3 separate regions of the Homo sapiens genome follow, and regions 2 and 3 are each linked to region 1. Evidence: fine-mapped expression QTL. A gene starts in region 1. Each other region holds a variant in brackets. All regions are shown on one strand. Distances are from middle to middle.

Region 1 (11,085 bases):
GAATAGAAATTGTTCTACAGTAAAGATGCATGCACGTGTTTGTTCATTGCAATCCGCAGCTCACTGCACCCTCCGCCTCATGGGCTCAAGCAACACTCCCACCTCAGCCTCCTGAGTAGCCGGGACTATAAGCCTACACTACTCTGTTCATAATAGCAAAGACAAGGAATCAATCTATTGCCCAAAAATGATAGACTGGATAAAAAAAAATAAGTGGTACGTATACACCATGGAATACTATGCAGCCATAAAAAAGAATGAGATCCTGTTTTCTGCAGGAACATAGATGGGACTGGAGGCCATTATCCTCATATCCTAAATTATGAGAACACATGGACACACAGAGGGGAACAACACATACTTGGGCCTACTTGAGGCTGGAGGGTGGGAGGAGGGAGAGGATCAGAAAGACTATCTCTTGGGTACTAGGCTAATACCTGGGTGATGAAATAATCTGTACAACAAACCCCCCAGACATGAGTTTACCTACATAGCAAACCTGTACATGTAGGGTGATGAAATAATCTGTACAACAAACCCCCCAGACATGAGTTTACCTGTATAGCAAACCTGTACATGTAGGGTGATGAAATAATCTGTACAACAAACCCCCCAGACATGAGTTTACCTGTATAGCAAACCTGTACATGTAGGGTGATGAAATAATCTGTACAACAAACCCCCCAGACATGAGTTTACCTGTATAGCAAACCTGTACATGTAGGGTGATGAAATAATCTGTACAACAAACCCCCCAGACATGAGTTTACCTGTATAGCAAACCTGTACATGTAGGGTGATGAAATAATCTGTACAACAAACCCCCAGACATGAGTTTACCTGTATAGCAAACCTGTACATGTAGGGTGATGAAATAATCTGTACAACAAACCCCCAGACATGAGTTTACCTGTATAGCAAACCTGTACATGTAGGGTGATGAAATAATCTGTACAACAAACCCCCAGACATGAGTTTACCTGTATAGCAAACCTGTACATGTAGGGTGATGAAATAATCTGTACAACAAACCCCCAGACATGAGTTTACCTGTATAGCAAACCTGTACATGTACCCCTGAGCCTAAAATAATAGATTATTTTAAAAAGATACTGGGTTTATGAAGTCCCCAGGAGGTCAGGAGGAAGAGAGAACGCTTGAGACAAGCATGGTCAGTGAGGAGCTTGCAGGGATGGCAGAGGGGCAGGGAGCAGCAGAGTTTGAGTAGAGGAACCAGAAGCCCAGCCCTGGACCCATCTCTGCCTTCCTGTGTGTGCGCCTAACTCAGCTTTCAGGTGAGAGCTGGGGCTCAGGAGGTTATGTACTCACTTGAAGTTGCACGTCTAGGAATCTAGATGATGGTCCCATGTCTGCTGTGCCCCCGCCCTACGCTATTGCTAGGACAGCCAACCTCTACTCAGGGGCTGCAGCCGGTCAGCTGGCATCTACCAGGCTCAGCTGAGAGGGGTTCAGAGCCTAGAGGAGCTGTGGCATGCCAGGTCTAGGCTGCCTGTTGGCTGCTGTCAGGATGAATGCTGTTGTACATAGATTCTTTTTGGCAACCAGAGACTTTCAGACGTCAATGGCCATGCAGTCTCCATGTTGCCCTTCCCATCCTGACACCACACACTCCTTATGCTGCAGCCACCATGGATGCCTGAGTGAACAGCCCTCAAATTCTATTCTAACTCCTTATTTAAAAGATAAGGAGACCCAAGACTGAGAAATTTGACATAAATAAGCAAACCGGCTTGCCTGAGCTGAGTACTGCGTTTGGTCTCACGATAGCTGCCTGCTGGCGTCTGATTTTCACAGCTAGTACAACCTTCCAGCACCTTCCAGGATTGGTTTCTGAAAGAGGGGATTGTTTTTGCTCCCAGTCCCCCTAAACATTCTGTAGGTAATTACAGCACTCATGGCCCCATTTTCTCACTGTGTGTTTGCCACCTTGGGTCTGTTCAGATGGCAAGCTCCTGAAAACCAGGCACCTCCTCCTTGTACCCATGGCACCGTCGTGGTGCCTGGCTGCTGTCAGCACAGAGCATTAGCTCTGAGACACCTCCTCCTTGTACCCATGACACTGTCGTGGTGCCTGGCTGCTGCATTAGCTCTGAGACACTGCTGTGTTTCCCTCCTAGTTCTGCATCAGGTGGTACTGTTTTGTTTTGGTGGCTTGGTTCATTTTTTCTTATTGCAGTATTATCACTGCATAGAAAGCAGAAGTGGTCTTCCCATATTGTGTAAAATCCCCATTAAACATACACCACATGCTTCAGAGCGGCAGGAACAGGAAGAAGGATGGGATTCCCCGTGCCCGAAGGTATACCAAGTCTACATTGTCCTGAGAGTTAGGGACTACATACACTTGTCCGTGCAGCATTTGGGAAGGTCAGAGGAGACGACTGTGTGGTGTGCATTGGAGAAGCGTGGGACCCCTGTGCTCACCACCACCCTAAGCCCCTGTGAGGCAGGGGGCACCTGGTGCACTGTGACCAGCACTCTCCCAGCTTCCTGCCAGGAGGAGCCAGCTCCTTAGGTTCTGTAGGGTTTGACTTAAAGAAAATTTTAAAACATGATTTTTCAACAAGTTGATTGCCAAAAAATCTCTGTGGTTAGGGAGGCACCTCCCTACTGGTCACTAATTCCCCCTGCCGAGCCTTCTGCCCGGGCAACTGCTCCACAATCTCCAGCTGCACCATGTGTTTTGAAAAGCATTTCTCCCCGCCCCTCTGGGGTTTTTCTCCTCCTCCAGTGGTGAAATTCCCGAGGGCACTGAGTGGGTTACTCTTCACAAGCACAGAGCTAAGCCCAGTCCTGGTAGAAAGGACACACAAAGAAGACCCAAGACCATGAATATGCTCTTGACATTACTCTGTGGGCTCTGCTGTTACTCTGTGGGTTCTGACGTTACTCTGTGGGCTCTGCTGTTACTCTGTGGGTTCTGACGTTACTTTGTGGGCTCTGCTGTTACTCTTTGGGCTCTGCTATCACACTATGGGTTCTGATGTTACTCTGTGGGTGCCTGCTATTATTCTGTGGGTCCTGCTGTTACTCTGTGGGCTCTGATGTTACACTGTGGGTTCTGCTGTTACTCTGTGGATCTCTCTGTGGTTACTCTCTGAATTCCTGCTCTTACTCTGTGGACTTCTTTTGTTGCTTTGTGAGTTTCTGCAGTTTGTTTACCTCTTTACCATCCATCCAGGAATTCTTTCACTAGGAATTGTGAGGATGCTAGCCAATTGGGCTAAATTTAATATTACTATGTCCCCCATTGTGGTGGTGGGGTCTTGGCTTGGCAATTTCTACTAGTATTCCATATGCAGTTAACCTTGACACATCAGTGAAAGAAAAATAAAATTTCAGGCCTCCAAACTTACTATGCCAAAGGGAAAAGTTAATATTGGCAAAACACACACACACACACACACACACACACACACACACACACGCAGTCTTCTTTTTGTTCCCAAAAGCTTACTTTATCTTATGTGAAATGTAGATCTACTGAGTATGAGACAGATGCATAACCCTCCCCCATACCTTTCTTTTCACATGTGAAATGTAGATTTGCTGTACTCTAATCAGAGCCTCACAAAAATGTGACCACTTGCCTCATAGCCTACTCTCCCCTCTTTCCCCTCCTACCGGCGCTTTTCCCTTAAATATTTGGAAAAAAGTACAGGCCAAAAATCCTACTGTAACCTGTGTTTCTTTTTCCCCAGACACGTCCACGATTTTGGCAGAATAAACCTCTAAATCAGTTGTGATCTGCCTCAGACACTTTTTGCTTTACACAACAATCCAATCATAGCGATTTATTTGGAAATATACCTTCACAAGTTAAATCAGACCACAGCGCTACTGGGCATTATTTATAATGGCAAACTATTGCAAACAATTTAAAACCTATCATAGACATCATAGAAACTATTCTAATAAATTGATACATTTATATAATAGAATAATCCGCAACCTTGAAGGGAATGAAGGAAGGAATAAAGAGAGAGGGAAAGGAAGAAAAGAACGGAGAGAGGGAAGGAGGGACAGACAGGTGTTTAAATTGGGGATGTGCAAGCAATATTGCCTACTTCATTGCCTTCACATTATTTAAAAGCATGTGGTCAAGAAACACTATTATAATAAGCACTTCAGAAATAACTTCTAAAATTACTTTTCCAAAATATGAATCCATACTATACACTTCCTGTAATGTGCACCACATGTAGATGCACACATTTTAACAAGGAAAAGACTAATACTCATATTTGCTTGCTACACACCAGACACTGTTTTAAATGTTTTGCACACGCTAACTCATTTGTTCTTATGGAAATCCTGTAGCGTGCACCGCCACCTCCATGTTTCTAGGCGGAAACTGAGGCACGGGGGCTGCGGCTCCTGGACCCACCTGGCCTTCTCGGCCTGCCTCTCTCCCTCCAGCCGCCCCACATTCTTTTTTCCTAATTGGAAAAAACTATTCACGCTGCTCCTCCAGGGCATTTCAACCTTCTAGAAAGATTCGACAAGATTCGAAACTGTTTATAAAGAGAACGTGCTTGTGCCCGAATGCTGAGTGTGAGCGCGCAGTGATGCCCTAGAGTGCAGTCATCCCGGGCTTGGCGCCCAGCGGGTGGAAATACGGCCGCAGGGTGGAAATGCGGCGGCGGGGCTGCCCAGGCTCCTGTGGGACCCGCGCGGCGCGGGCACGCACATTCTCAGGGACGCGCGTCCTCAGGCCACGAGAACACCTGAAGGCCCCGGCCAGCGTCCTCCCGTGAAGACCCGGACCGGCGTCGTCACCCGCCGCGCAGGCCTAAATCTCAGGTCTTCACCGTCATCTCCCAGCGATCGCAGGGATCTCAGGCACTGACCGCGCCCGTCCCTGCGCACCCGAGCCCCACCCCACGCCCCCACGCCCCCACGCCTCCACGCCCGGCACTCTGGACGCGCGCGGACGGAGGGGCAGTGCCTACTACGCAGGCGCACGCTGCGGGCGACAGGACCAGGCAGCAACATTGCCACGCGGATCCGCGCCGGCCAATCAGCATGGCCAGGGGCGGGGCTTCCCTGAGGCGCGCCGGGAGGCGGCGGCCCACTTCCGGCAATAACCGCCTGGTCGCCGTCAGGTGCGGGCCCAGGTGGCCGGCGCGCCCGTTGGGCACTGGGGGACGCGGGCGCGTCAGGTGAAGACTGGGGGCCGCAGGCGCGCTAGGTAGGTGCGGGGTGCAGCGGGCGCGTCAGGTGAAGACTTGGCGCCGCAGGCGCGTTAGGTGAAGATTGGGGCTCGCGGGCGCGTCAGGTGGGGACGACGGGCCACGGGCGAGTCAGGTGAAGACCGGGGGCGGCGGGCGCGTCAGGGGAAGACATGGGGTCGCGAGCGCGTCAGGTGGGGACGGGGCCTGTGGGAGGGTCAGGTGGGGACCGGGGGCCTCGGGCGCGTCAGGTGGGGACGGGGTTGTCGCGGGCGCGTCAGGTGGGGACGGGATTGCCGCGTGCGCGTCTGCTGAAGTCTGGGTCCGCGGGCGCGTCAGGTAGGGACGATGGGCCGCGGGCGCGTCAGGTGGGGTCTGGGGGCGGCCGGCGGGTGTGGAGGGTTCATTCAGGGAGCTGCGGGCGAGTCGGGTGGGCACGGGGGCCGCCCACAGGTGCACCGCGCGTCCTCAGCCGCTTCCCCTGCCCACCTTCTGCGACCCCTTCCCGCCCCCACCCTCCTGGGCCGTCTTGCAGGCCCGAGCTTGTGTCCGCCTCGCTGGGCAAGGTGTTTCGGGGACGACTCCTGCCGGCGTTTGCCCTCCGGGCTCGGTCCTTGCCTCTTCGCCGGTGGGCACCTGCTAGGTGTGACCCCTCATTCCTCCAGGCCACTCTGCCCCGTCTGCTGCTTACCTTTTTTTCCCTACTCCTGGTCTGTGGCTCTGGCTCTGTCTCTGTCTCCTCCCTTAATTTCTTTCCATGCTTATTTTTCTTGCAGCAGACACTAATTTTGCATCCTTCCCCTCACAGTAAGCTCAATTTGACCTTTTTCTCAATTAGATTCCACCTCTGTCCTTGGGCCTATTCAAACTCATTTTGAAGACTAAAGAATCTAGAGAACCATTTCTTCCCTTATGAAGCTGTCTCTTGCTGCCTCCAAATCCTTACCATCCGGCCCTAATCAGAAAAGACGTTTACTCTTTCATATTCTGTTTTCTCCTCGTCTTTACGTGTTTACCTTTCCCATGAGGAATCTGTGATTATCTGTAAGTCCTTAGAGTACAACTTATTTCTGACTCTCAGCCCTCAGTTTGCCATTTTTTAAAATGTCCTTTCTGGATCAAATTTGTCCACACTTATAAGCAAAACAAATAGGGAAACACATGTGGTCTTTTAAGATGGATTGGAGTTTTCTTTCCTGTGTTGTATTCCTTGTTTTAGTGCCTTTGTATTTAGGTTCATCATTACTTGAAATCATATTAGTGATCTGTAATAGACGGTAAAAAAAAAAAAAGTTAAAAAGCTTATAATTTAATGGCATCTGTTTTAATAGGGTTTTCAGGAACTGCTATTATAAACATAGTGGTTAGGAGCATGGATCCTGGAGTGAGACTCCATCATTTTGAATCCCAGCTCCACTGAACTCTTTGCCTCAGTGTCTTCATCTTTAAAATACATAATGAAACTTGTAAAACAAGAATAATGTTTTCTACCTTGGAGGACAGTGTGAGGATTAAATGAGACAACATATGTAGATTGTTTAGAGTAATGCGTAGCCTATGGTAAGCTCTAATAAATGTTTGCCATTATTATTGTTAAGAAAAAATATGCTTGTTGAAGGAAAGACATTTTTTTTTGTTCTGAGTCTCTCATGCCAAGAGTTTCCACCAGCAAATGAACTTCATGAAGTCCTTTTCTACTGAAGTATCCCACCCACGTGTCCTACCACATGAAATAGAAATTAAGGGAAGATTTTAAATAGTTAATCATTGTAGGCTGTCTGAAATAAGTTGGCATAAAATGTGCTTAAAATTTGCAAATTATACAAGCTACACCCTTTGAGTGCTTGCTCTTAAAAGTTTAATAATTTTCAGGAGTAATTTCTAGTTTTTTTGTGTTTGTAAATTCCCAAAATAAAGGTAATTTTAATTAAAATAAGCGTATAAAGCTCTAGCAATTCACATTTTTTAGCTGAACAAATACATTCCCATTGAAAGCCGTGGGTCATCATCATTCTATAAAACTTTAGTAGCATTGTTTTCTGATTTGCAAACTCAGAAGCCTCAGTTTGGGAGTATTTTTGAAAACTTGAGATCCAGACCCCAGACGTTTTAAATTGCAACTTGTCTTTTTTTGTTGGTGGTGTTGTTTTTAATCTGCATCCAGAGTTTGTGCTTTAGTTCATGAGCTGTATAGATTATGCTTTAAGAAAAACTTCATTGTGATCCATAGAGCATACCATAACAAATCTGTGAAGCACACACATCTTCAGAGAAACAAATCTTTTCCTCTGTGTTGAAAATAAGCCTTTGGGCATGGACTATTTTTTTATTTCCATGGCTGCATTTCACTCCTTTCAACCCTTAAAAAATCAAACTTATCAGCTGAGAAATTCAGACCAAACTATTCATTTTTCACTGAGTTGCCAAAATGAATTATCTGTAGAGTTTAGGTAGTTGTAAAAGAATTGGTTATATTAATGGAAACAGTAGGCAGGCTCTTTATGTAAATGTTATAAAGATTGTGAAACTAGAAGATAAGTGTATTAAATGATGAGTGGGCATAGTGTCTAAATAGGTAAGTACAATATTTGTGTGTCATCAAGTTTTAAAATATTTTTTCAGCTGAGGATACCGGGATGTACATAGGACAGTCATCCAGATAAGGTTCTGTTGGCAAGATATTTGTTGCCTAGTTGTTTTTTTCTGTCTCCATGTTTTTCATTTGATCTATCCTACAAGCCCTAGAAAATTATTATTCTCAAAACAACACTGCTCACGCTGATCTGTTGCTGAAAAACGTTTAATTACTGACAGAATAAAGTCTAAACACCTTTGATATTCTTCTATGACCTGGCTTCTAGTCGCTTATGTACCAGTCCTCTGATAAACTTTCTCCATTTTATCCCATCTTTTCTGCTTATTTTTCTCAAACTGTGGCACACATTTTGCCCTTTATACTTATTCACCCACCATTCCCATGATTGATATTTTTTGCCTTGCCTCTCCATTCATTTAAGATCTAACCATGCTTCAGGGCGAAGATCGAGTCCTAGTTTCTAGTCAGAGCTTTCCCAGCTGATTTGCTTTCTGCTCAAATTAACTTTATTCTCTCTTTACCACAAGTTACAAGATTGTGGACATATCTGTATGTATGTATACATGCACACTCACATATCTACATGTAAACACACTTTATTATATTACACTTGTATGGAATTTGTGTGTGTTTTGCTATTGTTCTTTTTTAGTTCCTTAGCTAAATTGCACACTTTTGAGGGCAGGAACATCTAGCATAATAACATGTAGTTGGTGCTCAAATGTTTGTCGTTGAAGTAATCCTGTATTTGGTCTGTTAGCAATATTTTTCAGGATTATCCACTTGATTTTTTTTTTTAATATAGATTTCTGAATCCACAGTTTCAAGTTGATATTGAGAGATAATTTGATAATTATCAGAGATGTTCCTAGCAGCCATTTTCTGTTGAATGTGTTTTATGAGACTCAAGGTGCCACTTCAGTCATCTGCTACTTCATGGTCTTTGCTGCCTTTGGTGGGAATGTTCTTGAAAATCATAAAATCAGCTGTATGCTATTAGAGACAGTTTTAGATAACTTTAGGTCGACTGAACATGGGCATTGAGTTTTGCATTTTAGGATGTTCAGTAGTTGTGAAGCAGTTCTGTGAGACAAAGTTTATCAAAATTGTGCTGAAATTTAAGGAATAAAGTATTTTCTAAAGCAAGAATTTAAATTAATCATTATGTGACTGAAAAAGACATGTTCTGACTATAAGTCAGTTTAGCAAGGTTTGAGATTTTCTTCGTGTAAAGAATAATTACTTCATCATTTCCTACACCAGTCAAGAATTAAGCATTTGTGGTTGATCCAGGAATATTGTTGAAGTCTATGTAATTTCCTTCCTTTTTTTTCTGTATCTTCTAGGATTGTATAAGTGCCCATTTAATAGCTTGTTTTTTGTTAATTATACTAAATATAGTTGGGAGGTGGTGTTTGGAGATGTTCATCTCTCATTTATTCTCCATGATGTAAATATTCTACATTTTTCTCTACGATATAAATATTCTATATTATAAAATACTCAAGTCTGTTCGGGACGTGAAATTAAAGTAATACATTACAGAAACCACTTTTGCTTGAGTAATTCAGCTACCTTTCTGTAGCTAAATTCAACGTATATTTTCAACTCTTGCCATGCTTGGCATTTTTATAACATTTTCGTCTCTGTCGACCATTTCTTTCCTGAAATACATTTTTCTCCTGACTTCCTACTTCTCCCTCTACCTTTTTGGCTCTTCCTTTTCAGTTTTTCTTCTTGGCTTATATCTGCCGATCCCTTAAATGGTGATGTTTCTTAGGGTTTTTTTCTTGGCTCTCTTGATTTCCCTCTCGACATATTCTGTGATATTATTTGTGTGGTTTTGATTAGTGTCTGAATGCTCATGATTTTCCTCTTTCTCTCTAGTCTAACTCTCTTCTGAACCATGGATGTATATATTTATTCATTCAGTAAATAAATACTTATAGAGCTCCTGTTGTTTTCCTGGCATTGTTCAAGGTAATGGAATACGGACCTGAACAAGACATTGCATTTTCTTGGAGGAAAACAGATGATAAACACGCTAATCATTTCAGACAGCCCTTACAACTATGAAGGCACTAGATAATGGCTTAGACTGGTAGGGAGGGGGTTGAGGCAGCAGAAGGGCGCTGTTTGGACGGGGAGTCAGGGAGCCTTTCTGGGATGTGACATTTTGAATCAGCAGTGTGAGCATCTGAGGTGGTTTTTAGCCTCATGCACAGTCTCACTGTGTATGAGAATCACCTGTGGACCTTTAAAAACTACTTAAACTTAGCCTTCACCCCCAAATATTCATATTTAACTGAACTAAGATGGGACTAAGCACTTGAATGTTTAAAAAGCTTCCTGTGATGTTAATGCACAGCAGTAGTTGAAAACCACTGATCAAGAGGAGCAGAAATCAAGTCAGTGGGAAGAACTAGCATTTGAAGTCTCACTCTTATCAAATTGTGAGCGTCATGAAGTTAATCACGAAGTTGCATCATTTTTTAAGTCATAATTTTTATACCTGGAGTCTGGTATTTCAAACTGAACAGGCATGTCCTAAGCTGAAATTAATATCCCTTATCTCTCCTTTCCTAATAAAACCCTGCTGTTCCTTCTGTATGTCTTATCCCAGATCCAGGGGCTACAAAACAAAATCTAGATAACTTCCTTGATTTCCTCCTCACGTTTCCAGACAGTCTTCAAGTACTGTTTGACTCTGTTTCCTAAATATTTCTGCAGTCTCTGCTCTTCTGTTTATTTTGCCACTGTATACTCTCACCTTTTAAAGGTCAACATTCAGAAGCCTCCAGTCCCAACTACTTTCCTCCAGGTGACCCTCACCCCATACCTTCTCCCACTGTGATACTGAGTTCTTTGTAAACCACAAATCTGATTGAATCACTTACCTGCTTACTTCCCTTTTTTGGCCCCTCATTGCCCTCAGAATAGCATCCAACTCCTCTAACTTGATCCAGCCTTAAATGACTTCTCCATCCTTAATTCTGGCCCACTCTCTCTCATCTATTCTAAGCTTCAACCAAACTGAACTACTTAGAGTTGCTGAACATGAATACATTTCATTTTCGGTTGCTTCTAACTTCTGGCAAAGAGAGAATACTTGTTTGGAATAATATTCCCTATTCCACACTCCCTGACCCCTGCTTGTTTTTCAGGTATGAGCTAGAATGTCACCTCTGGTAAACCTTTCATGGGATACGCAGTATTAGGCCAGTAAAACCACGTTTACTTACCCCATTTGATCACTTTAGTACACAGTACTGTGTTATTGTCACTGTCACCAATGTC
Region 2 (5,000 bases), 57 kb after region 1:
AGCCATTCTAGTGGGCAGGAAGTGGGTCTCATTCCATTTCCCTGATGACTGGATTCTAGAGCATCTTTTCATGAGGTTATCGTCCATTTCTGAGACTTATTTAGATAAATGTCTTTGCATGTCCTTTGACCATTTTTTAAACTGGGTTATTTGTCTTTTTATTATTGAGTTGTAAGTGTTCTTTATCTATTCTAGATATAAGTCTGTTATCACATATGATGTGTGTAGCTTATTTTAATTTAATAATACATTATGGACATTATTCTGGATTGGAGTATTTAAGTCTGTTTAACAGCTGCTTGGTATTCCATTATACAGGCATAACACAATTTATTTGATTTGTCACTTATTGATTTAACCCAAGTGAGTTTAATTTCAAATAATTGTTTTATGTACTACACTGCCTTTGAAAAATAATTTCAGATAGACCTGGAGGCCATTATTCTAAGTAAAATAACTTAGGAATGGAAAACCAAATATCATATGTTCTCAGTTATAAGTGGGAGGTAAGCCACGGGTACACAAAGGCATTCAGAGAGGTATAATACACATTGGAGACTCAGAAGAGGGAAGGGTAGGAGGAGGGTGAGGGATGAAACACTACATGTTGGGTCACTGCATACTTCTCCAGTGATGGGAGCACAAAAATCCCAGACTTCAGCACTGTACAATTCATCCATGTAACCAAAACCCACTTGTAACCCTAAAGCTATTGAAGTTTAAAAAAAGAAATTAAAAACTAAAATAAAATGAAAAAGTTTTACACCTAATATTATGTTTTGAAAGTCATCTTATGCGGATTCTGAATGGAGTTTTGTTTGTTTAGTTTTGTAGACATTTGATCCTTTCAGAAAAAGGTCATATTGAATGGAAGTTGATGTACTTTGCACTTCAGAAACATTACCCAGCGAAGGAGCAGTACGGAGACACACTGCATTTCTGTCGGCACTGCAGCATTCTCTTTTGGAAGGTACTGATTTAAATGCACTCTTGGAATTTCAGGATTAAATTTTGGTGAAACAAACTAATCACCTATATTTTAAGTATAAGACTAAAAAGCGGAAAATACTGTTTGTTATAAGTAAGTTAAGGAGATATATTTTACCAAATATTGGGGTAGGGGAACAGATGTTCATTCAATGTGTAGCTTAAACCAGAAACGCTGAAAACCAAAATGCTTCTCCTTTTTGCAGAAGTTAGCATGCAGGAGGGCGTTGCAGGCGGATTGCAGCCAGTGACCTTTCCTGGCAGCAGCTCCAGATTCCCTGCTGGCCCCCAGCCTGAGGTTGAAGGCTGGAGTGTGACCCCTCTGCCCATCTGAGGACAAGTGCACCTTCCTCGTTTCCCCAGACTTAGCCCTCGGCCCTTTATGTCCCCACCGACTCTGCAGGGCCAGGACCAGCTTAGGCTTCATTTCTCAAAGCCACATTCTTAGAAAAAAAGTGTCCATAGAGAAGTCCTAGATTTTAAAATCTGCATTTTTCTCATTCATATGATCAGAACTTAACAAGACTATCGTTACTTATCTGCAAGTCTCATCCCTTCATCCAGTTACTTCCTGTTCTCACCATCCAGACTGTGTGTCTAAATAGAATGTTTTTCACAGTCAGAGAGGTAACTGCTTATTTCTTTGTTGTCTTTTTTCTTTTTTGAAATAGGGTCTCGCTCTGTCACCCAGGCTGGAGTGCAGTGGCGTCATCACGGCTCACTGCAGCCTCTACCTCCTGCCTCTCAAGTAGCTGGGACTACAGGCAGGTGCTACCACACCCAGCTAATTCACTTCTTTTTTTTGTTTGTTTTTTTGAAACAGCATCTTGCTCTGTCACCCAGGCAGTTATGGGTGCAGTGGCGCAATTATGGCTCACTTCAGCCCCGACTTCTGGGCTCAAGTGATTCTCCCACCTCAGCCTCCTGAGTAGCTGGGACCAGCTGATTTTGTTTGTTTGTTTTTGGTAGAGACAGGGTTTCACCGTGTTACCCATGGCTGGTCTCAAAACTCCCAAGCTCAAGCAATATCTATGTGCCCCAGCTTTCCAAAGTGCTGGGATTACAGGCGTGAGCCATGGCACCCGGCAATTATCCACTTTTTTCTTAACATGTTAATATTATTTCACCCTGGAGTGTGTTTCCATGGTTTGCCTTGCGTTTGAACATGTTTATGTTGTGAGATTTCACCGTGGGGGAAAAAAAATGTTGAAACTAGGCATAAGCTGGTCCTGGAGTGACCCTGCTGAGCTGCTGGCTGCTCTGCGGAGGGAGTCCTCTGACTGTCCCTGGTCTAGATGAGGCCCTGCCTCTTGCAAGAGTGGGCTGTCTCTGCCTCTTGCCTTCTCTAGGTCTAGGGAGATGAGGCTTTTGCCTGATAGACACCATAACCTTTTGTGATTACTTTTTTTGCTTTACATTATCTATATTTGTTATCAGATAGGTCATACGGCAAACTCTAGGTTGTCGGAAAGAGACAACTGCTTTTCATTTTTTCATTTCAAATTACATTTATTCTAAGTGTGGCTTTAAAAATTAATCCGTGGTTGAGCAGAGAATGTAAAGATGTGTTTTTCTTGTATTATTTTAATAGTTTTATTTGGTATATCAAAGGTAAACAGCATCATACATGAATATGAGATTTTATTTCTGATTTATTGTTTTATATTTTGGTATGACTTCTCTCTTTCCTGAAATTAAAAAGATGCAAGTTGTGTTATGTGTTTTTGCAGTAGTACAACTGTCTTGTAGACTATTATCCCTCAAGAGCAGGGAACATCTTGATTCCAGTTTATTCTCGATTTGGTGAAGTCAGCAAATCAGTTCATCAGTAAGATTATGGATATACAGGAGAGAACCCTCATTCTATTCTTTTCTCCCCAGTTATAGGGCACAGAAGGCACAGTATGGGGGTGAGTTGTCTGCAGTAGAAGCCACAGGCAGATGCTTGTGGACAGAAGGAAAGGGGCCGATTGAGTGAAGTCCAGGTTCCCAGCCAGCTTTGACACCTGACCCTGGAGGGAACAGG[G/GC]CCCCCCTTCTGTGTAATTCCTTCTAGGACTGACACCTGTTCTTCTCTGAAATATTAACACTGAAAACATGTGACTGTGTCTTCAGTCACAGAGTAAGAGTGGACACAATACTGTAGTTTCTAATTTGAGTTAGTGCTTCTCCTAAGAGTTACTTGTCTTTTTTTCTCCTGAGCAGATTGTTTTGTACTATAGAACTATTACAAGCAATGATACTTTTATAGGGAAAATACCATTCATAGAAGGGATAGAAGGCTTTCAGTTTTGTATGTGGTAGTATTTTTCTTAGAACAATATTTATCAATATTGGAGCTCTCCCTGTCTGCTGAGCAACTAACAAAGAAATACACAGTCCTTCGCTTCCACATTGTTAGGCAGTACAGATCAAGTCTCCCTTATCTGAAATGCCTGGGACTTGAAGTGTTTCAGATTTCAGATTTTTTTCATCTGTTTCATTTACACAGAGCTTGAAGATAATTTCATACAATGGTTTAGTAATTTTATACATAAAACAAAGTTTGTGTTACTTAACATGTGTAGTTTTCCACTGTGGCATCATGTCACTGCTCAAAAGTTTGGGATTTTGGAGCATCTCAGATTTTTGGATTACAGGTGCTCCATGTATATAAGAATATGCTGCCTTAGTTTCCTGAAATATGTAATTTCTGATTTTTTTAAATTGAGAGATGATGTAGCCTTCCAAAAGAATTTGCTTTGCCATTCTTGTATTTAGTGAACTTTGTTATCATACTTGATCATATCATGGAAATTGAGAACAAGTCTCTCCTAGGAAGGACAGCTGCCCATCTCTTAGTTCTGGGAGGTTCATGTCTTGCCCTTGGAGGCTGTGATGTCCACTTCACTGTAGCTACAGTGAGTGGTCCCATCACAGCTTCTCCCACTGAATATCATTCTAGAAGGCAGTCCACGTTTTTAGTTCTGAATCCATGCATTGGAAGTATTCAAAAAGAGCCATCTCTCCTAATTTAACCCCTCAAGATGTCAGGTACTTCTTGCCCTGTCTTCCATCTCCTCCGCCGTGGGTTTGCCCAGTGTGGCTAACCAGAGGCGAGTGGCCTGGTGGGCCAAACCCAGATTGGAGTCAGGCAGACCTGGACCTGCCTCCGGGGTCTCCTGAGCTTGCTGCCCCTCCTAGGGTCTTGGTTTGACGCCATGACCCACCACACAGAGGAGCTGTGGATGTTCAGCAGTCCTGCACCTGGAAACTGGCACATAGCTGGTGCTCAGAAAATGGCACTTAGGGTTAGGGTCACTGCTTGTTCTTTGTTTGTTTAGCATCCCAGTAGTTTGTGTTGACTGAGAAACTAAAGTAATATCAAAGCTGTTAAGAAAATGAGACTGGGTGTTGTTGACTCTAAATTCTGGCCCTGGGACTTGGTCATGAGCCGACACCATGGTGCATCTGTCTCAGGTCTGCATCTGGTATTTATCACTTCCCACAGTACATAAGCTTGGAGCTCTCCAGTCAGCAGTGCTGTGGAGCCACTTCATCTGCTCCCAAGCTGGTTTCCCATCTGTTGTGGCTCTACTATATTGGAGTTCTTTTTTAACTTTTCTACCTGCCTTAGTCAGCCTTCCACACAGTCTGTAAGTAACTGGGCTGAGTTAAGCTCTGGAGCCAAAGACTGACTTCGATGGCCCTGCGAGGGTCCACTGAGAGGGGTGGCGTTACCTCCCGGCTGTACAAAACCTCAGTTAAAAACTGTAGACTTGTTGGCTGGGTCAGGGAAGCCATGATGAGCATTTGGCCTTTTTATGTCCTGTTTTTTCTTGGTGTATCAGTTGCCAGAATAGAGGGCTGGCCATCTGACGTTCACCCCACAGGCCTGTGTGGACATCAGGAGCAAAGTTGGAGCCAGAATCCAAGATGAGGTGTCCATGGTCTGGTGGTCCTGGTCTTGCAGGGGAACCGCTTTGCTAGTAGCATCCTGAACCAGCGGGGGAGAACAGCACAGGAGGGCAGCTGCT
Region 3 (11,085 bases), 70 kb after region 1:
ACACAAATTGGAAAGCCATGCAGTAGCCTCTCAGGAGCAGACCGATTTGTAGCTGTCGTGGTTTACTGCATGACGTACAGGCTCTCTGTATGCACTGTGTGTGCGTACTGTACAGGGCTGTACACAGCAAACTGTGTCTACTTTATGGAAAAAATTTAACCATCTGTGAACAGTTTTTTGCCTTAAGTGCTGCTTTTAGAACCAAACTGTCATATAAGATTTATCAGCTCTTTTAACACCTTTGTAGATTCCTGATGCTGTGTACAAAATCATGTCATCTATGAATAGACAGTTTCACTTCTTCCTCTCAGTCTAGATGTCCTTTATTCTTTCTTACCCCGTTTCGCTGGCTAGAATCTCTAGTACAATGTTGAATAGCAGTGCGAGAGTGAACATCCTTGTCTTGTTCCTCATCTTAGGGGAAAGCTTTCAGTCTCACCATTAACTATGATGTTAACCCTGGGTTTTCCATACATACCCTCTATTAGGTTGGGGAGGTTCCCTTCTATTCCTAGTTTGTTTTTATCGTGAAAGGGTGTGGATTTTGTCAAATGCTTTTTCTGCATCTCTTAAGATAATGTAGTTTTTGGCCTTCATAAGATCATGTGCTGTTATTACATTGACTGATTTCTATATCTTGAACCAACCTTGCATTCTTGGGTCAAAGCCCACTAAGTCATGGTTTATGATACCTTTTATACATAGCTGTTAGATTTGGTGTGCTGGAACAGCCAGCCCTCTGTATCCACGGGGGATTGGTTCCAAGACCCCCACCCCCACCCCACCTGCCACCCACCACCTTGTGATCTCTTGGGTTTTGGTGTCCATCTCATAGGATAAGCTTAGAAAGTGTTCCCTCTTCTGTGTTTTGGAAGTGTTTGTGGTGGTTTCTTGTTAATTCTTCTTTAAATGTTTGAGAGAACTCCATATAAGATTTGAAGTCACTGAGAAGCTTCAATTATCCTTTAAGAGGATAAGACCATTTTCTCCAGAGATGCCTTTTAATGGTTTTTCTTTTCATTGCGAAGGCCTAACTTAGTAGATAAGTGGACTGTGAAACCTAGTCTGTTCTGCTTATCTTCAGAATTATCAAAAGGAAGGGGTGCTGCCCTCTGAGAAAAGTCAGAAGCAAGCCTGCCTTATGAAACTCGACTTTTTAATCTCCCTCTCTTCATTATGATGTGTGCACGTGATGGACACCACTCACCTCCCTTTAGTCCCTATCAAATGCTACCCAATGGCAAAGCCAAGGGATTAGCAACAGGTAGGAGGAAAAAGAAGGACCTGCATACATGACTAACCAGCACCAGCCATTGGGGCCCTCTATGGCTGACACCAGCATCCACCCTGCACTCATATGTATCTCAACAGAATTGCTGCTTCTGTCTTCACTCAAGCCCCACTCCTTATCCCTTCCTGTTGTTTCTGCATAGAGGAGGCAGACCCTCAACTTTGGAAAGCAGTGTCCCCCCGCGTCCCATGGGCTAAATGCCACTGAGCCGGTAGGAGCTGCTCAGGTGTAGCCTCTGCCTTCAGAATTTCAGCAGGAACTGCATCATTGTGTGCCTAAAAAGCCCTGGCTCACAGCATGAGACAGTGTGTTCTAGGTGGTAACGTGGCACCTGCACATGCACCCCCAGCAGTCCTCTCTAAACTCAGGCAGTGTATGGCTGCTGCCATTCTCGCCCTCAGCATCTGTGAGATGAAGGAGTTGCTCCCCAGGGCACCTGCCCCAATACAGGCCACGTGGATCTGCCATTGCTTTTCACGTGAATGCCTAGGAGAGGCTGTTAACCCTCCTAGTTGTCCTTTTTGTACTTGGTCCTCTTCCTTCCAATCCTCACTGGCTCAAATCCACAGAGTGACAAAGAACAGAGATGCCCAGAGCACCAGCTGGAGGGGCAAGCAGGAGAAGGCACTGCTGGTGCCACAGGGGTCCTGGGCTGGCTCTTGGACCATAACCAGCGTTCACTGAGGATGCGGTTTCTTTGAAATGCTCTTGTTCTTCCTAAGTAAGGGAGAGCAAAAAAAATGAGGACATCTGTGTCAAATAGAAGAGACACCTCAACTGTCTCGTTTTTGCATGGAAATTTCATTTTTATTTGATAATCATTTGAGAAACTTGCACAGATGAAGGCAAGTTGGTTTTTATTATCTAACCTATGTAGTCAATTCTAATGTCATTTAAAAGAATTTGACATGTTAAAATACACGTGAAATTTACCATCTTACCTATTTTAAGTGTGCAATTTAGTGGCATTAAATACATTCATACTGTGCAACCTTCTCTACCACGTATCCACAAGTTCAACTTTACAAGATGAACTTTTGTCATCTTGTAAAACTGAAGCTCTGTACCCATTAAGCACCAACTCCCTATTCCCCATCCACCAGCCCCTGGCAGCCTCTGTTCTCCTTTGTCTCTTTTAATTTGACTTCTGTAGGGACCTCGTATGAGTGGAACCAGAAGGGATTTGTCCTTTTGTGACTGGCTTATTTCACTTAGCGTAATGTCCTCAAGGTTTATTCAAGTTGTAGGATATGTCAAGATTTCTTTTTAAGGCTGATTCTATGGATGGACCACATTTTGTTTGTGTACTCATCTGTTGAGGACACTTGAGTTGCTTCCACCTTTTAGCTATTGTGAATATTGCTGCCGTAAACATGGGTGTGCAAATATCTGAGTCTCTGCTTTCAATCATATGGCAATCCTATGTTTAATTTCTTAGGGCACTGCCATAAGTGTTTTACACGGTGGCTGCACCATTTTACATTCCCACTGAAGGTTCCAGTTTTGCCACATCCTTGCCAACACCTGTTTTTAATAATTGCCATCCTAATGAGTGTGAAGTGGTATCCTGCTGAGATTTTGATTTGCATTTCCGTAATGACTGGTGATGCTGAGTATCTGTTTGTTGGCCGTTTATATGTCGTCTTTGGAGAAATGTCTATTTGGGCTCTTTGTCCATTTTTCAATCAGGTGTGTGTTTTTATATGTTCTGGGTATTCACCCTTTTCAGATATATCATTTTAAAATACTTTGTCCCATTCCGTGGATTGCCTTTCACTCTGTTTTGTTCTTTGATGTACAGAAGTTGTTTCTTTCTTTTAGTTACCTGTGTGTGCCTCTGGTGTCATATCTAAGAAATCACTGCCTCACCCTTTTCAGATATATCATTTTAAAATACTTTGTCCCATTCCGTGGATTGCCTTTCACTCTGTTTTGTTCTTTGATGTACAGAAGTTGTTTCTTTCTTTTAGTTACCTGTGTGTGCCTCTGGTGTCATATCTAAGAAATCACTGCCAAATCCAATGTTGTTAAAAGTTTCCCTTATGTTTCTCCTAAATGTTTTAGTTTTAGCTCTTAGTTTAGGCCTTTGATCTATTTTAATTTTTATATATGGTGTGAGGTAGATCTAGCTTCATGTGGATGTCCACTTGTCTAGCACCATTTGTTGAAAAGACTGTCCTTTCTCCCTTGAATGGTCTTGGCACCATCAAAAATCATTTGACCCATATGTGCAAGGGTTTATTTGGGGATTTGCTATTCTGTTCCATTGGTCTACATGACTGTCTTTGTTTCAATACAACACCATTTTGATTATTGTAGCTTTGTCGTAAGTTATGAAATAAGGAAGTGAGAGACCTCCTACTTGGTTCCCTTTCAAGATGATTTTGGCTGTGTGAGGTCTCTTGAGATTCCATATGAGTTTCAGGATGGAAAAAAAAAAGCCACTGGGATATTCTGATAGAGATTGCATGAAATCTATAGATTGCTTTGGACTATGGACATCTTAAGGTATCCAATCCATAAACACGGGATTGCTTTCTATTTATTTGTGTTGACCTTACTTTCTTTAAGCAGTGTTTTATGGTTTTCAAGTACAAGTCTTTTGCTTCCTTAAGTTTATTCCTAAATATTTCAGTTTTTTTGTTACTATTATAATGGAATTTTCTTAAATTTCCTTTTGAGATTGCTTGTTATTGTATAGAAATATCATGGATTTGTTGTGTTGATTTTGTAAACTGCAGTGTTACTGAAATTTTTTTTTGTATATGTA[T/G]GGACACTAGGATTTTCTACATATAAGATCATGTCATCTGCAAACAGATAATTTTGCTTCTTCCTTTCCAGTCTGGATGCCTTTTATTTCTTTTTCTTGCCTAACTGCTCTAAGACTCCAGTACTGTGTTAAACAGAAGTGGTGAGACAGGGTATTTCTGTGTTGTTCTTGATCTTAAAGTCCTTTCAGTCTTATTGAATATGATGTTTACAGTGGGATGTTCATATGGCCTCTATTTTAGGTTGTTTCCTTCTATTCCCAATTGTTGAGTTTTTATCATGAAAGGGCATGACATTGTCTCAAATGCTTTTTCTCCATCAATGGAGATCACATTTTTTTCCTTCATTCTATTAATGTAATAGACATTACATTTATTGACTTGAGCATGTTGAAACATCTTTGCATACCAGCTGTAAATCTTACTTGGCCATGATGTGTAATCCTTTCAATGTCCCACTGAATCCTGTTGGCCAGTATTTTGTTGAATATTGATTTAAAAAAATCTTGATCAGGAATACTGATGTGTGGTGTTTTTTTCTTATAGTGTCTTTGTCTGGTTTTGGTATCAGAATAATGATGGCCTCATAGAATGCATTTGGAAGTGTCCTTTCCTCTTCAGTTTTTTGGAAGAGTTTGAGGAGAATTGATTTAATTCTTCAGATGTTTGCCAGAATTCCCATATGACCCTGGGCTTTTCTTTCTTGGGAGGCTTTTCTTTACTACTTCATGCTCTTGACTAGCATAGGTCTGTTCAGATTTTCCATTTCTTCATGATTCAATCTTGATAGGCTGTGTGTTTCTAAGAATTTGTCCAGTTCATCTAGGTTATCCAATTCTTTGATATGTAATTGCTCATAGTACTCTTAATCCTTTTTATTTCTGTAAAATCAGTTGTAATGTCTCCTCCTGGTTTTTAGTTGTTTTTCTTAGTCACTCTTAGCTATCAACAAACTCTTGGTTTCATTTATTTTTCTCTATTGCTTTTCTGTTCTCTATTTTGTCTCTGCTCTAATCTTTATTATTATTATAATCATCTCCATTCTGCTGGCTTTGGGTTGATTGCTCTTCTTTTTCTAGTTCTTTCAGATGTAAATTTAGGGTTGACTTGAGATCTTAATTTGTTTAATAGGTGTATTTACAGTTACAAATTTCCCTCCTACCACTGCTTTGACTGTACCTGTTTTTTTGTATATTACATTTTTCATTTACCACAAGATATTTTCTAATTTCCCTTGTGAGTTCCCCATTAATCTGCTGGTTGAGAGCGTTGTTTAATTTTCACATAATTGTGTACTTTTCAGTTTTTTGTCTGTTACTGATTTCTAGTTTCATCCCACTGTGGCCAGAAAAGATATTTTATTTCCTCAGTCTTTTGAAATTTGTTGACTTGTTTAGTCATCTAACATACTGTCTATCCTAGAGAAAGGTCCATTTGCACTTGAGAAAAACGTGTGTACTGCTGTTGTGTCTGTTAGGTCCAGCTGGTATGATGCTGTTCAAGTTCTGTCTTGCGACTGATCTTCTGTCTGGTTGTCCTATCCGTTACTGAAAGTGGGCTACTGCAGTCTCCTACTCTTACTGTAGAACTATCCATTTCTTCCTTTGATTCTGTCAATGTTTGTTTCATATATTTTGGGCTCTGATGTTTGGTGCATATATATTACATCTTGGTGAATTTTCAAACTTTTTAAATTTCAACATGAAGATGAAATTATAGGATGTCTGGGATTTCCTTTGAATCCGTGGGGCTGGGAGTAACTATAAATGAAACAAGATTGGCCGGGAATTTGAGGCTGCAAGGATAGGTACACACAGGGGAGTGAAGCAGGGCTTGGAGCAGATGGTAAAGATTGTTGGCTTTTCCAGCCATGGGGCTCTCTTGCCACTTGGCAGTAGTGGCATGAAGCCGCCACCAGGGGGCCACGCACCAGTGCATGTGGCTGTGTTCCAAACTTTTTGGACAATAAAATCTGAATTTCACATACTTTTCTTATGTCATTAGATATTACCCTTTTACATCTTTTCACTATTTAAAAATGTAAAAATCATTCTTAACATTTGGGCTGTGCAAAAACAGCTGGTGGGCCCAATTTTGGCCTGTATTTCACTTGCCAACCTGATTTATACTTTTGTATCTATTTGACATTTTCCATTAAAAGTTATATAACACTACTTTTTTGTACTCGTTACTTTTTAAAAAAAACTTTCTACAATGAAAATACATTATTTTTACAATAAAAAGCCAAAATACATACACAAAAATGTTACCCATTAATTATGGGAATTACTTCAAGGTAATTCTTATTTTGAAATATCTTTCCAATATTTTCTCTTATATCGCTTTTTGAAGACGCATAACATGATCCCAAATAAACAGTTGAATAAACACCACCCTCCTCTCCCCTCCTGCCCAGAAACCCACCCATCTGGAGCTGCATCTCCCAGGAAAGGAGACTCTAGAGGGAACCGCCTTCTTGCATTTCTCTAGCCTGGATTCCCATGGGAAAGATGTGTATCTTCATGCTGAGCTTTGAAGATTCTTACAGAATAAAAATTCTTACCATATCCTTCTGTCTTAATAGCACGTTTTAAAGTCTCTAGGGAGAAGAGATTTCTGTAAACACTAGTTTCCAAAGAATAAAAAAAAAAATCACTTCTCAAAACTCAAATGGTATTTCCCATCACCCCCACACCATCCAGATTTGTTCAGCTTTCTTGAAAATAAATTATCTAAATTTTTAAAAATATTTTCCTAAAACTCTAAACAGAAGTAACGTCAAAGGGATCAATAGCCTCACTTCTTATGAAAGCTAAAACTCTACCCCTTTATCAAAAGCTAAAACTCTACCCCTTTATCAGTAAGTAAGTGAAAATATCTTTGCAACTCTGAAAAACCATGCTGGGACATTAATTTCTAAATACTTAAATGGCGGCCAGGTGCAGTCCCTCACACCTGTAATCCCAGCACTTGGGGAGGTCGAGGCCAGAGATTGCTTGAGCGAGCCCAGGAGTTCAAGACCAGCCTAGGCAATATAGCAAGACCTCGTCGCTACAAAAAAAAAAAAAAAAAAAAAAAGAAAAAGGAAAAAAGCCAGGCATGGTGGCACACGTGTAGTCCCAGTTACTCAGCAGGCAGAGGTGGAGGCTGCAGTGAGCTGTGTTTGTGCCACTGTACTCCTGACTGGGCAACAGTGTGAGACCCTGTCTCAAAAAATACATAAATATTTAAGTATCCACCCGAACTGACAGCCTTATAGTACCGGGGTGGGGGGCGGTCACTGTTACTGTCAGACACACTTGAAAAAGATGAAACCACTCACTGGTAAGATAACAGTTGGTCACCAAAAGGCAAAGATGCCAGCATGATGATGATAAGCTTCAAACATAATCAGAAACCCAGTGGATGGAGATTTGCCATGAAACAGCAGGTCTTGGAGATACAGTAACCAAAACTTAGAGAATGGAATACCTCATAAAGGTGACATGCCCTTCAGTGGTGATGAAACCAGTCTTTGAATCAGAGAAAGGCACAAAGGAAAGCAGCATGTTCCCAAGGCACACATGCCAGGAGAAAACAAGCCCACCAGCAGGAGGCCTGCCTTTAACACTCACCTGCTGGTGTGAGAGCAGACGAGGCTGCAGCCACATCAACCCTGGCTCTCCTATGTAACATTCACTCAGGACTGCCCGTGCCCCTCCAACGGGCTCAGCGCCATTCATGTTGCTTATCTGTTAACCTCTTCCCCAAACCCTGCTCTTCCAGCAGACGGCGCACACACTGTGCCACACGTGTGGCTGAAAGGATAGCCATGCGTGGGGATAGCCGGAGGTGCGGTCGCTCCCCAATTACTACATTTTCCCTCTAAAAACTTAAGTGTCACATTTCAAAACACCAGCTTCTTTAGCAAACCGGTTTTTCTGTACATAACCCAGACAGGCACCTCTCTGGGGCCCCCATGTCTACACAGAGTTGGGCACTGCCCTGGACTCTCATCTACCTGATGGACAGCTGGTGCAACTTTATCAGCTGTCAGCCTTAAATGAAGAGGCTCAGAAAATACGGGGAAGTGTCTAGCACATTCAAGCACACATTTTGAGGATGGCCACCTGGGGGATGGGCTCTACACAAACAGGGTCAGCGTTCCACAGTGGAAAGTTAAGGCTTCACTCATATAGGCAGGAGCCGAGATATCGCAGAGTCTTGCCGTTTTCCACAGACCAGTGTGTGCGCTATGGCAATATGACCCATTACAGATGGCTGCACTCCACAAAGTGAGGAGCAGTGATCTCAGGGGCCTCATCTCTGATGCATTTGGTCGTTTATAGGGAAAGAAAGGCAGAGGTTGCAGCTGTATGCTCCGTGGCTCCAGCTGCATAGCTGCATTCCTTCCAAGACTCAATATTTTTTGAGTGCTTTTTTAAATTTTAGTTTCAGGGGGCACATGTGCCCCTTTGCTACATGGGTATGTTGCATGGTGTGGGGTCTGGGTTACTTTTGAACTCATCACCCAAACAGCGAATGTAGTGCTCAATAGGTAGCTTTTCAACCCTTGTCCCCTTTCTCCTTCCCTCCTCCCTTTTGGAGGCCAGAGTAAAGTTCCAATGGCTTGAAGTTTGAATTAAGTTTGACTTACTGAGTTTCACACAGCTTTATAACCAAAGGTCACACAATCATGCTACCCCTTAGTGAGGAAAGCAAGGGGCTCTGTAGCATCTTGGCTGTTATGTGAGCCACGTGCACTAATGCAGCCTTCATTCAAGCTCTCCTCTCCTTCCTCCTCAATTCAGCATCTACCGAGGGGAAGGCGATGGTCTGTGACACAGGTCACACTTAACAGGATCCCTGTAGCATGGAAACAGAGCAGTGTCGTCTGATCTCAAGGTGGTTAGGATGTTTCCAATTCCCATGCAAATTTTTTTACTAGTTCCTCCCACAAAGCTGCTTACATTTGCAGGCGGGTTGGGGGGTGGAATCAAATGGTCTCACCTGCATTTTCACTGCTATGACCTCTTTTCTGGATCTGAGAGGGAGTACAGCAGGTACCTGTCCCAGGTGGCGGGCCACATCCCTGGCTCTCTGCTTGCAGAAGAGGTGCCAGGACACAGCCCTCGAGAAGCGTAGAGAGGGCACAACTGAGAGATGCTTAAGGAATAAGGGGAGCCAGGTTAAAGATCCAGTTGTTACCACCTGAGCCTAATGTTACCACTAATGGTGGATGTCAGACACTATGTGGCCCTGCTGTGCACAGGGGCCCAGGAGCTGCCCCGAAAGGAAGCAGCAGCTTGGATTAACCGAGCCTTTAGATCCAATTTCTTGTTTGTAGGCAGTGCTAAGGATGGAGGAGTGAGTTGAACACCTCAAACAGCAGTGTGTTCAGGAAAAGCTGCGAGGGAAGGGAGACAGGGGGCTCCTGTTTCCAACATCAAAAGATTTCAGAGATAGAACAGCCATATATGATGCACGATCATGGTTTTGGGAAAAAACAGCTAAAAGGTACATTCCAGACAATTGGGAACATATATATATGTATTAGATGATACAGGAAATTAATTTTGTTAGGTGTGCCAATCATATTTACTTATGCAGGCAGCATCATTTTTTTTTTTTAGAAATATATGTTGAAGTACTTGGGGGTGATACGGTGTCCGTAATTTACTTTTAAATGGTTAAATATATGTATGGACACACAAAGCAAATATGACAAATACAACCATTATTGAATCGCAGTAGCTGAGTTTATGGATGTCCATTGTACTACATACTTTTGCATAGATTTTATTTTTCATCATAAAAAAATTTAAAAACTGAAATGCTTGTCAACCCCCCCATCTCGAAAAAGCCAAATTGAAATACACCTGGTTAATTATGAGAATTAACCACTATCTGAGGATTAAGTGTGATTTGTTTCCCTTCCTTCATCCCACTGGCCTCAGGAATGGAAAATACTTTAAAGGGAGAAAAAACTCAAACTGTGACCATGAGCCTCCACCCCATCCTGTCCTGTCTGCTTCTTGTGTCAGAGCCACTAAGGGAAAAATCACTAAGTTGTCACAATGGCTGGGTGCAGTGGCCTACAACCCAGCACTTCGGGAGACTGAGGCAGGAGGATCACTTGAGCCCAGGAGTTGGAGGTTGTACTGAGCCCTGATCATGCCACTGCATTCCAGTCTGGGTGACAGAGCAGGACCCTGTCTCTAAAAAGGTTTTTTAATAAAAACAAAAAATAAATGGTCACACATTCCTAAGATGCATTAGGCTTTGCTGGGAGATGGCCCTTCTAGTTCACCATTGAGCTTAGCATTTGCTGCTGTTAAAATTAGAATAACCTTTATTCAGGATGTGCTCCTCCAAGATGAAACGGATGTCCGATTCTGGGAGCCGGAGGAACACGCTGCAATGCACTTTCAGACTCTGCAAGGAAGAGTGGGCAGGCACACAGAATCTCAGGAAGACGGTTCAGGGCGGCGGGGACATTCATCATGTGTTTACCGTCGGCTCTGACAGCCCGGCTTGAAGCTTCCTTCTAAGGATAGAGACTGAGCAGAGACTCCATGTGTCCTGGGCCTCAGTGGATAAAATTAGAATATGCAGGAGCCTGGGCAAATGAACCTATGACCCTGGGCAGCTGGCAGACTTTAAAAGCGAATTCCAGGTACAAGTCTGTTTTTTTAAACATCTGCCCAAGGCTGCCATGGACCAAATTCCTAAAGATACCTTGTTGCCCTAGAAATGTCTCCAAAACTCAATACCCCACTAGTTTTCCTACTCTGTCTAGAGACTTGGCTCCCCCCTCCCCCAATTACATGACCTTCTTCCATCAAATCCACTCTCCACACAATGAAGAAAACAGCACCTAATTCTGATGAAAACGTCTGGCCATGGGACAAAGCCCCGCAGGGCCCAGCTTTGGCCTTAATGGAAGGCGGGGTTAGGGGTATGACACTAGCCCCCCGCAAGAGCTCTGCTTCACCTCACACAACCAACCTGGTCCTCACTCTGGGTGAGGTAGAAATGTCACTGGCT

Alleles and levels. Alleles are on the strand shown, and positions count from the first base shown. SD is a standard deviation of normalised expression in the study named. Not every link is listed here.
For the expression in prefrontal cortex of the gene that starts at base 5,104 in region 1, T is the high allele of the variant in region 3 and G is the other (small effect, 0.21 SD a copy in BrainSeq).

The links. PIP is the estimated chance that this variant, and not a neighbour inherited with it, causes the effect.
Region 2: its variant is fine-mapped to the expression of FBXO25 in whole blood (INTERVAL, PIP 0.95).
Region 3: its variant is fine-mapped to the expression of FBXO25 in prefrontal cortex (BrainSeq, PIP 0.95).

What each region holds. Positions count from the first base shown.
Region 1 is chr8:401,855-412,939 of GRCh38, forward strand. It overlaps FBXO25 (F-box protein 25), which reads left to right and starts at 5,104. Exons shown (of 10, transcript NM_183420.2): 1 at 5,104-5,212. RefSeq lists an enhancer at 2,666-2,725 and a silencer at 4,827-5,236.
Region 2 is chr8:462,181-467,180 of GRCh38, forward strand. FBXO25 (F-box protein 25) reads left to right here. Exons shown (of 10, transcript NM_183420.2): 9 at 827-970. Among named protein-coding and RNA genes, the nearest start is that of FBXO25, 58 kb to the left of the region's middle. The variant G/GC (reference allele first, on the strand shown) is at 3,014.
Region 3 is chr8:471,735-482,819 of GRCh38, forward strand. It overlaps FBXO25 (F-box protein 25), which reads left to right. Exons shown (of 10, transcript NM_183420.2): 10 at 1-6,233. Among named protein-coding and RNA genes, the nearest start is that of TDRP, 68 kb to the right of the region's middle. RefSeq lists enhancers at 7,313-7,814, 7,815-8,314. The variant T/G (reference allele first, on the strand shown) is at 4,062.